Regions from separate parts of the Homo sapiens genome. Here region 2 is linked to region 1. The links come from fine-mapping of genetic effects on gene expression. A gene starts in region 1. The other region holds a variant in brackets. All regions are shown on one strand. Distances are between the middles of the regions. Region 1 holds the start of LYPLA1 (lysophospholipase 1). Region 2 overlaps LYPLA1-TCEA1 (LYPLA1-TCEA1 readthrough).

Evidence for each region. PIP is the estimated chance that this variant, and not a neighbour inherited with it, causes the effect. A credible set is the group of variants that fine-mapping cannot tell apart.
Region 2: its variant is the best candidate, but not a certain one, in a credible set for the expression of LYPLA1 in blood mononuclear cells (TOPMed, PIP 0.80).

What each region holds. Positions count from the first base shown.
Region 1 is chr8:54,098,710-54,104,085 of GRCh38, forward strand. It overlaps LYPLA1 (lysophospholipase 1), which reads right to left and starts at 3,238. Exons shown (of 9, transcript NM_006330.4): 1 at 3,046-3,238; 2 at 2,199-2,230. The coding sequence starts at 3,114. It overlaps LYPLA1-TCEA1 (LYPLA1-TCEA1 readthrough), which reads right to left and starts at 3,238. Exons shown (of 21, transcript NM_001425842.1): 1 at 3,046-3,238; 2 at 2,199-2,230. RefSeq lists a silencer at 2,792-3,361.
Region 2 is chr8:54,050,966-54,056,341 of GRCh38, forward strand. LYPLA1-TCEA1 (LYPLA1-TCEA1 readthrough) reads right to left here. Exons shown (of 21, transcript NM_001425842.1): 6 at 4,095-4,168; 7 at 1,690-1,791; 8 at 47-223. It overlaps LYPLA1 (lysophospholipase 1), which reads right to left. Exons shown (of 9, transcript NM_006330.4): 6 at 4,095-4,168; 7 at 1,690-1,791; 8 at 47-223. Among named protein-coding and RNA genes, the nearest start is that of TCEA1, 31 kb to the left of the region's middle. The variant G/C (reference allele first, on the strand shown) is at 2,548.

The sequences.
Region 1 (5,376 bases):
AATGGTGTACAATTTTAAACTTATAAAGTATTTCTGGAATTTTTCATTTAGTATTTTCAAACCACAGTTAACCACGGGTAACTGAAACCATGGGAAGCAAAACTGCAGGTAAGGGGAGACTACAATATCTTAAGTATTAAATTGCCACTTGTCAGGCTGACAGGTTCGAAGTTTCATCATGCACTCATGGAACCAATCTAGAGTCAGCCTTTCCTTAGCATTATCCCACCAAATAATTTCAGAACTGGAGACCTTTGTTTTTTCTTTTATCACAACAGGTTAAAAAGAAGGATACTTTTTTAATATAAACTTAACTTTTGGTCAAGATGTAATGGATGTTCTTGGTATTTTTGATCCTAATAGTCTTCACCATTTTTACTTTTAGCTTCAGTCTGTGGAATCTGCCTAGACTGAAGTTTTTTTTTTTTTGCTTGAACTAATCATTCAGGCATAGAAGTGCTCATTATTGGCAAAGTTAGAGGATAGCAACCTTCTCCCTGACTTGCAACATCAAGAAAGGTTTGGCCATAAAATAGAGATTCTGCTATTCGAGTTTCATTTGGTAAAATAAGTTCATCATTTTCACAGGACCACTGGATTGCCAGAAAGAGTGCTGCAACCTTTTCTGTAACTCCATACAAAGTTTGTATTACATAACTCGACTTATTAGGCAAAAAATAGGAATCACTTTTAAGTGGTGGCTCACGCCTGTAATCCCAGCACTTTGGGAGGCTCAGGTGGGTGGATCATTTGAGGTCAGGAGTTCGAGACCAGCGTAACCAACATGGCAAAACTCTGTCTCTACTAAAAATACAAAAATTAGCTGGCATGGTGGCAAGCAACTGTAGTCCCAGCTACTCGGGAGACCCAGGAACCCAGAAGGTGGAGGTTGCAGTGAGTCAAGATCACGCCACTGCCCTCCAGCCAGGGCAACACAGCAGACCCTGTCTCCAAACAAACAAACAAAAATCTAGCCTAATGGCATTTTTTTTTTTTTTGAGTCTCACTCTGTGGCCCAGGCTGGAGTGCAGTCGTGCAATCTTGGCTCACTGAAGCCTCTGCCTCCCAGGTTCAAGTGATTCTCTTCTCTCAGCCTCCCTAGCAGCTGGGATTACAGGCATGCACCACCACACCCGGGTAATTTTTATATTTTTAGTAGAGATGGGGTTTCACCATATTGGCCAAGCTGGTGTCGAACTCTTGACATCAAGTGAACTACCCACCTCGGCCTCCCAAAGTGCTGGGATTACAGGTGTGAGCCACCGCGCCCGGCCCCAATGGTTCATTTTAAAGAAAATTTAGTCGTTCTGGGGCTACTTTATCAAAATTTATTTATCTTCAGTTTTCCTCTATTTCTGCAATTTTTCAACAACATTCATATTTTGCTTAAGTTTCACAGATTATCACCAATTTAAATATAAAAACAAAAACATCTCAATATAGAAAAAGCTTGAGTAAAAGATAAATCATGTATCTAAAGTTAGTACAAAAGGCCAGGCTCAGGCAGCTCCCACCTCTAATCTCTGTGCTTTGAGAGGCTGAGGCTGAAGGATCACTTGAGCCCAGGAGTTCAAAGCTGCAGTGAGCTAAGATCCTGCAACTGCACTCCAGCCTGGGCGACAGAGAGAGCCCTTGTCTCTAAAAATAATAACAAAAGAAAAAAGCAAACAAACAAAAAATAAAATAAAAATAAGTAGTTAGTACAACAAATTGTTTGATAAGCCTCCAAATAAATCTTTGAGTTGCCTCCCCTGCCTTTCAACTCATTAGAGTGAACATCTAATCCCTCTATTCAGAATGCTGCATGCCTTATGTTGCCACTAGTTCTCTTATCAAAATCAACTAGTTCTTCTCTTCAATCTGCTCTGAAATTTTAACTGCTCTGGAAAGCTCTCAATTGCACACCGTCCCTACTAACATTCCACGGATCTCTGGTATCCAATACCCAAAGCAACTAATGAGGAATTTGAAATTTTAATATGTTCCAGAAACCAGAGTTAAAAAATCAATAAACTCACGATGATAAGGGGAAAATTCTGAGGGTTTTCAAAACATAAAATCACCGCACTGTAAGATACATTAACTGGCAATCTTAAAATACCATTTTAGCGCCCTTAAACATTAAACCTTTGAACGCGTAAACAAAAGTTGCATGACCCAGTTTCATTACTGTTACTATTAATAATAATGGTACCTACCCAGTATCTCCCAATCCATGCAGGAAAATCACCTATAAGAGAAGAGGAAAATTAATAAGCAATGCCTAAATAAGCCCACACAGGATTGTTACACACTAGCTTTGCTTAAGGTGGAAAACGGAACGAAACCTACGAGAGAATTACACAACACTATCTTCGGCGACTTAATCTTTATCGACCTCTTTTAAATGGCAAAAATTCTGATCAACTTCTCCCTTTATTTCCTGAGATAATGAATGGGGGGGGGGTAGCACTGAGAGGTCCCAGTTAGACATTGAGTGCAAATGATCACATTCTAAGAAAAACAGTTTATCTCTTTCAAGTGAAATCAGGAACATCTCACATATCCTGTAGAATTTTTCCACTGCAAAAGCAAGCTTCCGGAGGCAAAAATAAGTTTGACTTTTCATACACGAGTTTTCTAAAAAACAGTACGTCTGACCTTGTAGGACACTCAATCTTCAAACTTCTTTCATTGAGGATAAGAGTGCGAGGTGACAATAAGGCGATTTCCTGGCGGACTTAGGTTTCCCTCACCCACACACCAGGCAGAAACACGCTGCAGAGGCTGACGCCGTGCCCTAGGCCGGCCCGCGGGGGTCCCGGGGCCACACTTCCTCCGCAATGCAGGGAGGAGCTGGGGACTGGCCCTCGCGCCGGCTGTGACCCCCCGGCTGCCCCCGCCCCCCGCGGACCCGGCCGCGCGGACCATTCGCACCCCACCCGGGCCGGGAGGAGCGTCCTCGTCCGCAGGCCGCCACGCGCCCGCAACGCCCACCCCGCGCGAGGGGCAACCACCGGTGGCCGGCCCAGTGGACCCCTCCGAGCCCACGCCTACGCCACTCACCGCAGCGGTGGCCTTCCGGGCGGCGGGCACGATGGCGGGCAGCGGGGTTGACATGTTATTGCCGCACATACACCGCCTCAGCTCACAGCGCAAGCGGAAGGAAGAGCGGGCGCCCGGCCGCGGCCCAAGGGCGTGCGAGCGGCGAGTCCCGGCCGGCCCCACCGGGCGCACGCTCAGGCGCGTGCGCGCCAACGCGGCCCCGCGCTACCTTCCGCGCGCGCCCGCGCGTCCAGGGTCCGCCCTGCCCTGCCCCTCGCCCGCCGCCCCTCCCTCGGCACCTCACAATGTCCGGGCGGCTCCCTCCCTCCGATTGGCTGCGGCGGCAGCGCGGACCTGGCTGCGCTTTCGCCACACCACGCAGCCTGCGCATGCTCAGTGCTGGCTAGGGAAAATGTGCTCTCAGGTGCAGGCTGAGGGCTGGTCTCTTGGGTCTTGGTTTAGGTTTTTGCTTTTCTGGCGCTGTAGTGAAAAGAATGAGCCCCAGAGCCAATTCACCCAACCCAACCCCAGGTGCTCCTTGGTTTCCTGCGGCCGGGGTCTATCCATTTGTAAAAGTCTGGATGGACTGGGAGACGTTGATGGAGCTTTTGCAGTATTTCCGTTTGGGGCTACAGCAGTATGTAGATTTGGGTTCAACTTACCTTCTTTAAACTTTAGTTGGAAAGGGTAACATTTGTCACCAGAAATCCACTACTTCCCTAACTTGATCGACAACACTTACTGATGTACGGATATTGACACAGTACAGGTTTAAGTGAGAGGTAAAGCCAGCTGGTCTTCTGGGTCGGTTGGGGACTTGGAGAACTTTTCTGTCTTACAAGAGGATTGTAAAATGTACCAACAGCACTCTGTAGCTAGGATTGTAAAATGCACCAATCAGCACTTTGTGGCTAGCTAGAGGTTTGTAAAATGCACCAATCAGTACCCTGTAAAACGGGCTAATCAGTGTTCTGTAAAGTGGACCAATCCGCAGGACTTGGGCCGGGACAAATAAGGAAATAAAAGCTGGCCACGCCCCCCATCCCCTAGCTGGCAGTGGCAGCCCTGGGTCCCCTTCCACACTGTGGAAAGTTTGTTCTTTCACTCTTCACAATAAATCTTGCTGCTGCTGCTCACTCTTTGGGTCTGTGGGACCTTTAAGAGCTGTAACACTCCCAGCACTTTGGGAGGCCGAGGCGGGTGGATCAGGAGGTCAGGTGATCGAGACCATCCTGCCTTAACACGGTGAGACCTCGTCTCTACTAAAAATACAAAAAAAAAAAATTGGCCGGTCGTGTAGTCCAAGCTACTTGGGAGGCTGAGGCAGGGGAATGGCGTGAACCTGAGAGGCAGAGCTTGTAGTGACCTGAGATCGCGTCACTGCACTCCAGCCTGGGAGACAGAGAGAGACCTTGTCTCAAAAAAAAAAAAAAAAAAAAAAAAAAACTGTAACACTCACCACGAAGGTGACAAGCTTTATTCTTGAAGTCAGCGAGACCATGAACCCACCGGAAGGAACCAACTCTGGACACATAAGCATGAGACTAGACTGCCCTTTTCTGCACAGGTGCCTTTATGGCCTAAAATGTAGTTACTCAACAAATGTGTTGCATATCAACTACATGGTAAGATCTGGAAGAGAGCACAAGATAGAAACACTTAAAGCCAAAATGCCCTGACCTTCAGAAGTTTACAATTCAGTGAAGGACATACTGGAGGCCGGGCGCAGTGGCTCAAACCTGTAATCCCAGCACTTTGGGAGGCCGAGGTGGGCGGATCACGAGGTCAGGAGATTGAGACCATCCTGGCTCACACGGTGAAAACCCGTCTCTACTAACAATACAAAAAAAAAAAAAAATTAGCTGGGTGTGGTGGTGGTTGCCTGTAGTCCCAGCTACTCGGGAGGCTAAGGCAGGAGAATGGCATGAACCCAGGAGGCGGAGCTTGCAGTGAGCCAAGATAGTACCACTGCACTCCAGCCTGGGCAACAGAGCAGGACTCCATCTGAAAAAAAAAAGGACATACTGGATACCATCCTTAGAGAGTAAGGTTCGGAAGAAAGCTGTAAAAAAAACAACACTCCATTTCTTTCACACGGTAACCAGTGTCAGAGGCGTGTGAACCAGAGCAACTCCATCTTAAATAGGGGCTGAGTAAAGTAAGGCTGAAACCTATTGGGCTGCATTCCCAGACGGTTAAGGCATTCTAAGTCACAGGATGAGATAGAACGTCAGCGCAAAATATAGCTTATAAAGATCTTGCTGATAAAACAGGATGCAGTAAAGAAGCCGGCCAAAACCCACCAAAACTAAGATGGCAATGAGAGTGAACTCTGGTCATCCTCACTACTGC
Region 2 (5,376 bases), 48 kb before region 1:
AAAAAAGTTACAAATATGGCGCTGATCACTGCTTCTAGACACCTACCTGTTGACACGAACTGTGCATCATACCTTCATAGGTTTTAAAGGTCACATTGGCTGGATTCACCAATGTTTTTAGTTTTTCCACCGTAAGAGAACCAAACATCAGGGGAACCAAAGGGTCACAATCCCCGTGGCACTGGAGAATAGAAATATCTCTATTAGCACCACCGATAGGACCCTGCAAAAAGCAAAAGAAGAAATAGTTTTATTTTTGTAAAAGTATAGGACACTATGCCAGGCATTTAAAATTGTACATAAATATGCATATATATAACATATTAGAAGTTACATTTGGCCAAAAAAATAAAATTCCTTCATCCATATACTCACCACATCCCTTTGACTTCTATAGGATGTATGATCACCTTGCCTCATATTATAATATATATCTTCCCAGTGAATGAGTTCCTTGAAGCAGATTATATATACATTTTTTTGTTTCGTTTAGTTTTTTTGAGACGGAGTCTTGCTCTGTTGCCCAGGCTGGAGTGCAGTGGCGTGATCTCAGCTCACTGCAACCTCTGCCTCCCAGGTTCAAGCAATTCTCCTGCCTCAGCCTCCCAAGTAGCTGGGATTACAGGCACGTGCCACCACGCCCAGCTAATTTTTTTGTATTTTTTAGTAGAGACAGGGTTTCACTGTGTTACCCAGGATGGTCTCAATCTCCTGACCTTGTGATCCACCTGCCTTGGCCTCCGAAAGTGCTGGGATTACAGGCGTGAGCCACTGCACCCAGCCAAGCAGATTATATTTTAATCCATCTTTATATTTTCAGCTTTTTTTTGTTTGTTTGGTTGGTTGTTTTAGTATTTTGAGTTGCTGTTTTATTCAGCTATCTTTTTTTTTTTTTTTCCCCCAAAGACAGAGTCTTGCTCTGTTACCCAGGCTGGAGTGAAGTGGCACAATCGTGGCTCACTGCAACTTCCACCTCCTGGGTTCAAGTGATTCTCATGCCTCAGCCTCCTGAGTAGCTGGGATTATAGGTGTGCACCACGACGCCCAGCTAATTTCTGTATTTTTAGTAGCCATGGGGTTTCACCATGTTGGCCAGGCTGGTCTTGAACTCCTGACCTGAGGTAATCCACCCGCCTCAGCCTCCCAAAGTGCTGGGATTACAGGCATGAGCCACCGCACCTGGTCTAAAAATAAGTATGATTTCTATATGTTAAAAAAAGTCCTAATTTTCATATATATCCTAAAATGTATCAAATCCTTCTAATATAAGATTTGTGACAATAAGGTTTCTTTCTAATTCCATTCTATGTACTCCACAATACAGACAGTATAGCGTACAGAAATAAGGCCTAGTAATACATCACAAAAGTCTAAGAAAATTATTTTTAAAAAAGGATGAGTGCTGTAAGTGGAGGACTTGGTGATGGTGATGTGTCAGTGCAGCATTACTGACTGCAGCAAAAACATGGCTGTGGAGGTGGGGATGCTGATGGTGGGGAGGCTGTGCATGTGTGGGGACAGGAGGTAGATAGTAACTCTGTACCTTCTGCTCAGTTTTGCTGTGAATTTAGAACTTCTCCAAAAAATAAAGTTTATTAATAAAAAAAAATAAGATGACTTTATCTCCAACAATATCTACTAGCTACCTTTAGCTCAGTAATCTCATGTTGAGTGCATCAACCAAGTTACCTGTGGAAAGGAAGCCCGAAGTGGAAGCCAGCAACTGAGTGCAGTGACACCTGCCAGTTTCTGCTGTGTGGTAAGGGCAGTATATAAAGATAAAGCTCCTCCCTGAAAAGACAAGCAGGGAAAGTCAATGGAACACACATGCTTGCCCACAGCAATTTAGGGAATATCTTGTTACTAATGATATCCATAAAAAAATCAAACTTGGTGGCTGGTGTCAAATCAAATCAGGCAAATATCGGAAATACAAACACACCCCACCGTGTCCTAAAGGATGCGGTTCTCTACACCAGAGAACATACAGACTTCCTTTCCGACGAGACATAGTTTGTACCATGGGAAACTGCTGCACTTACAACATGCCTTACGAATATTCTGAATTTATATTTTCTCCTTTGCAGAATTTTAGGCATAAAATCCAATCTGCTCTTAAATTGGTATTACTTTTTTTTTTTTTTTTGAGATGGAGTTTCACTCTTGTTGCCCAGGCTGGAGAGTAATGGTGCAATCTTGGCTCACCACAACCTCCGCCTCCTGAGTTCAAGCGATTCTCCTGCCTCAGCCTCCCGAGTAGCTGGGATTACAGGCATGCACCACCACACCCGGCTAATTTTGTATTTTTGGTAGAGACGGGGTTTCTCCATGTTGGTTAGGCTGGTCTCAAACTCCCGACCTCAGGTGATCCACGCGCCTCAGCCTCCCAAAGTGTTGGGATTACAGGTGTGAGCCACCGTGCCTGGCCCTTAAATTGGTATTACTTTCTAAATGAGAATTTAAGATAATAATAACTATTTAGCAGACACCTTCAGAGTATCTGCCTACCCAGCTCACAACATCCCACATTCTGGAAGCTGTACTCCT[G/C]CCAGCATCCAGAAGCCCCATCACTCTGACCATGCCCATGGGTTACTGCAACACATGAGTACACGAGAGCCTTTCACATCCCAGGCAGTGATGTTTTCTCCTGGCACTGTGGAAATGGGATTCGATGACCACCAGTCACTCTCTGTGTGGCTACACCTGTAACATGTAAATTCAAGAGCTGGAAAAGCTATAGGCTGCAAAAGCCAAGATGGCCAATTGTTTATGGAAAGGTAAATGAAACAGACAAGCAAAGAAACAAGAGATGAGAGATGGTGAGCAAGGCCCAACTGCTTTTCAATTTCTAGCTACTTCCTGAGGCCTTGCCTCATTTTCCTCCTCAGTTTCCTTGATAGGATGCCACAGACTCATTGCTTACTCCTTGCTTGAGGTATTGAGTTGGTTTCTATATACTGTAATGAATGAATATCAAATATACAGACTCCCACATGAACTTGTTATTCTGGATCATTATTATTATTATTTTTGAGACAGAGTCTCAGCTCTGTTGCCCAGGCTGGAGTATAGTGGTGCGATCTTGGCTCACTGCAACCTCTGGCTCCTGGGTTCAAGTGATTTTCCTGCTTCAGCCTCCGGAGTAGCTGGAGTTACAGAGGCGTGCACCACTATGCCCGGCTAATTTTTGTATTTTTAGTAGAGACAGGGTTTCACCATGTTGGCTGGGCTGGTCTCGAACTCCTGACCTCAAGTGATCCACCCACCTTGGCCTCCCAAAGTGCTGGGATTACAGGCGTGAGCCACCGTGCCTGGCCTGGATCATTAATTTCTGTCCCTATGTTTATGTCACAATGTGTATTACAATATACATTATCTGTGAATTTCAACAAACACCAAATCAGTAACACCTTTTCACTATATTGTATCAACAAATCTTTCTACTGAATTCTATCTTCTAAATAATTTCAGAATTCTGACATCTCCCTAATTAAGGTAATCCAAACATCTCCCTAATTAAGGTAATCCAAACACTAAGTTGCTAACTTAGAAGATTTACAGATGATAAGTTAGAGCATCTGGGGACTGGTTCCATGGCAAACAGCTTATATGCCGCAGTAGCCATGAAAGAAAGGTCCGTATGAGGAAGCTACGTCTGTGGAGGGAGTACAGAAAGCAGGGGAAAAAGTACAGAGACAAAGAAAAATGCCAAAAATAAACACCACATATTCATACCTAAAACCTGTAATACGTGAAGGTAAAGGGAAGAAATTCTCTTGTCTTCCACTTTACTGTTCCTATCAGTAGTCTCCTCCTATAGAGGGGACTCATGCCTGTGTTATCAGTTTTAATTAATTAAAAGGATAAACTGTGTTAACTTAGAAATTTAATTACATGTGTACATGTGTATTATAGTTCTTTCAAGAAGAAATTAATTAGTTCCAGTACACTGAAACTTAATTAAACATCAAAGGTAAGTGTATCAGTCAAGATTCTATAACATCAAAAAAGACTACTCTATAGAAAGGATTAATGCACAGACTTCTAAATAAGTATACTGATGGTACTGACATTCCACTCAAATTTTATCTTACCTGAGAAAACCCTCCCAAAATAATTCTGTTAGAAGGAATGCCATTCTTCACTTCTTGATCAATCAAAGCTTTTACTAAAAACAACATGAAAGTTAGTCAGCAATACTTTCAGAGTTAAGCCCACTGATAAAATTTAAATTAGGAAAAAATTAGTAATAGAAAAGCGCAATTACTTTTAAGGTGGAAATGAGTGAAAAATTCAAAGCACTTCATTAAAATACAAAATTAGAATGTATTTTCATATGCCAACGGAGAACAACGTGAAAAGGAAATTTTAAAAAAATCAAATTTCCGATAGTCACACATAAAATTAAATACCTAGGAATTAAACAAAGAAGTGAACGGTCTCTATAATGAAAACTATAAAACACTGATGAAAGAGGACACCAAAAAATGGAAAAAAGATTCCATGGTCATGGATAAGAAGAACCAATAACAATATTGATTGTTATTGTTCATGAATTCTTCTAATCCATGACCATGGAATATTTTTCCCAAATCACCCAAAGCAATCTACAGATTCAATGCAATCTCTATGAAAATACCAATGACAATCTTCACAGAAATAGAAAAACAATCCTAATTATTTTTTTTTTTTTTTTGAGACAAAGTCTCGCTCTGTCACCCAGGCTGGAGTGCAGTGGCGTGATCTTGGCTCACTGCAAGCTCCGCCTACTGGATTCATGCCATTCTCCTGCCTCAGCCTCCCAAGTAGCTGGGACTACGGGTGCCCACCACCATGCCCGGCTAATTTTTTGTATTTTTAGTAGAGACGAGGTTTCACCGTGTTAGCCAGGATGGTCGATCTCCTGAACTCGAGATCCGCCCGCCTCGGCCTCCCAAAGTACTAGGATTACAGGCGTGAGCCACCGTGCCTAGCCCCCTAAAATTTATATGGAATCACGAAAGACTCAGAGTAGCCAAAGCTACCCTAAGCAAAAAGAATAAAACTAGAGGAATCACATTACTTTACTTCAAATTATACTACAGAGCTATAGTAACCAAAACTGCATGGTACTGGCATAAAAACAGACACACAGACTAAAGGAACAGAATAGAGAACCCAGAAACAAATCTATACACACACACCTACAGTGAATTCATTTTTGACAAAGGTGTCAAGAACATACACTGGGGAAAAGACAGTCTCTTCAATAAAAATGGTCCTGGGAAAACTGGATATCCATATGCAGAAGAATAAAATTAGACCCTATCTCTTGCTGTATACAAAAATCAAATCACAATAAACACTTAAATCTAAGATCTCAAACTATGAAACTAC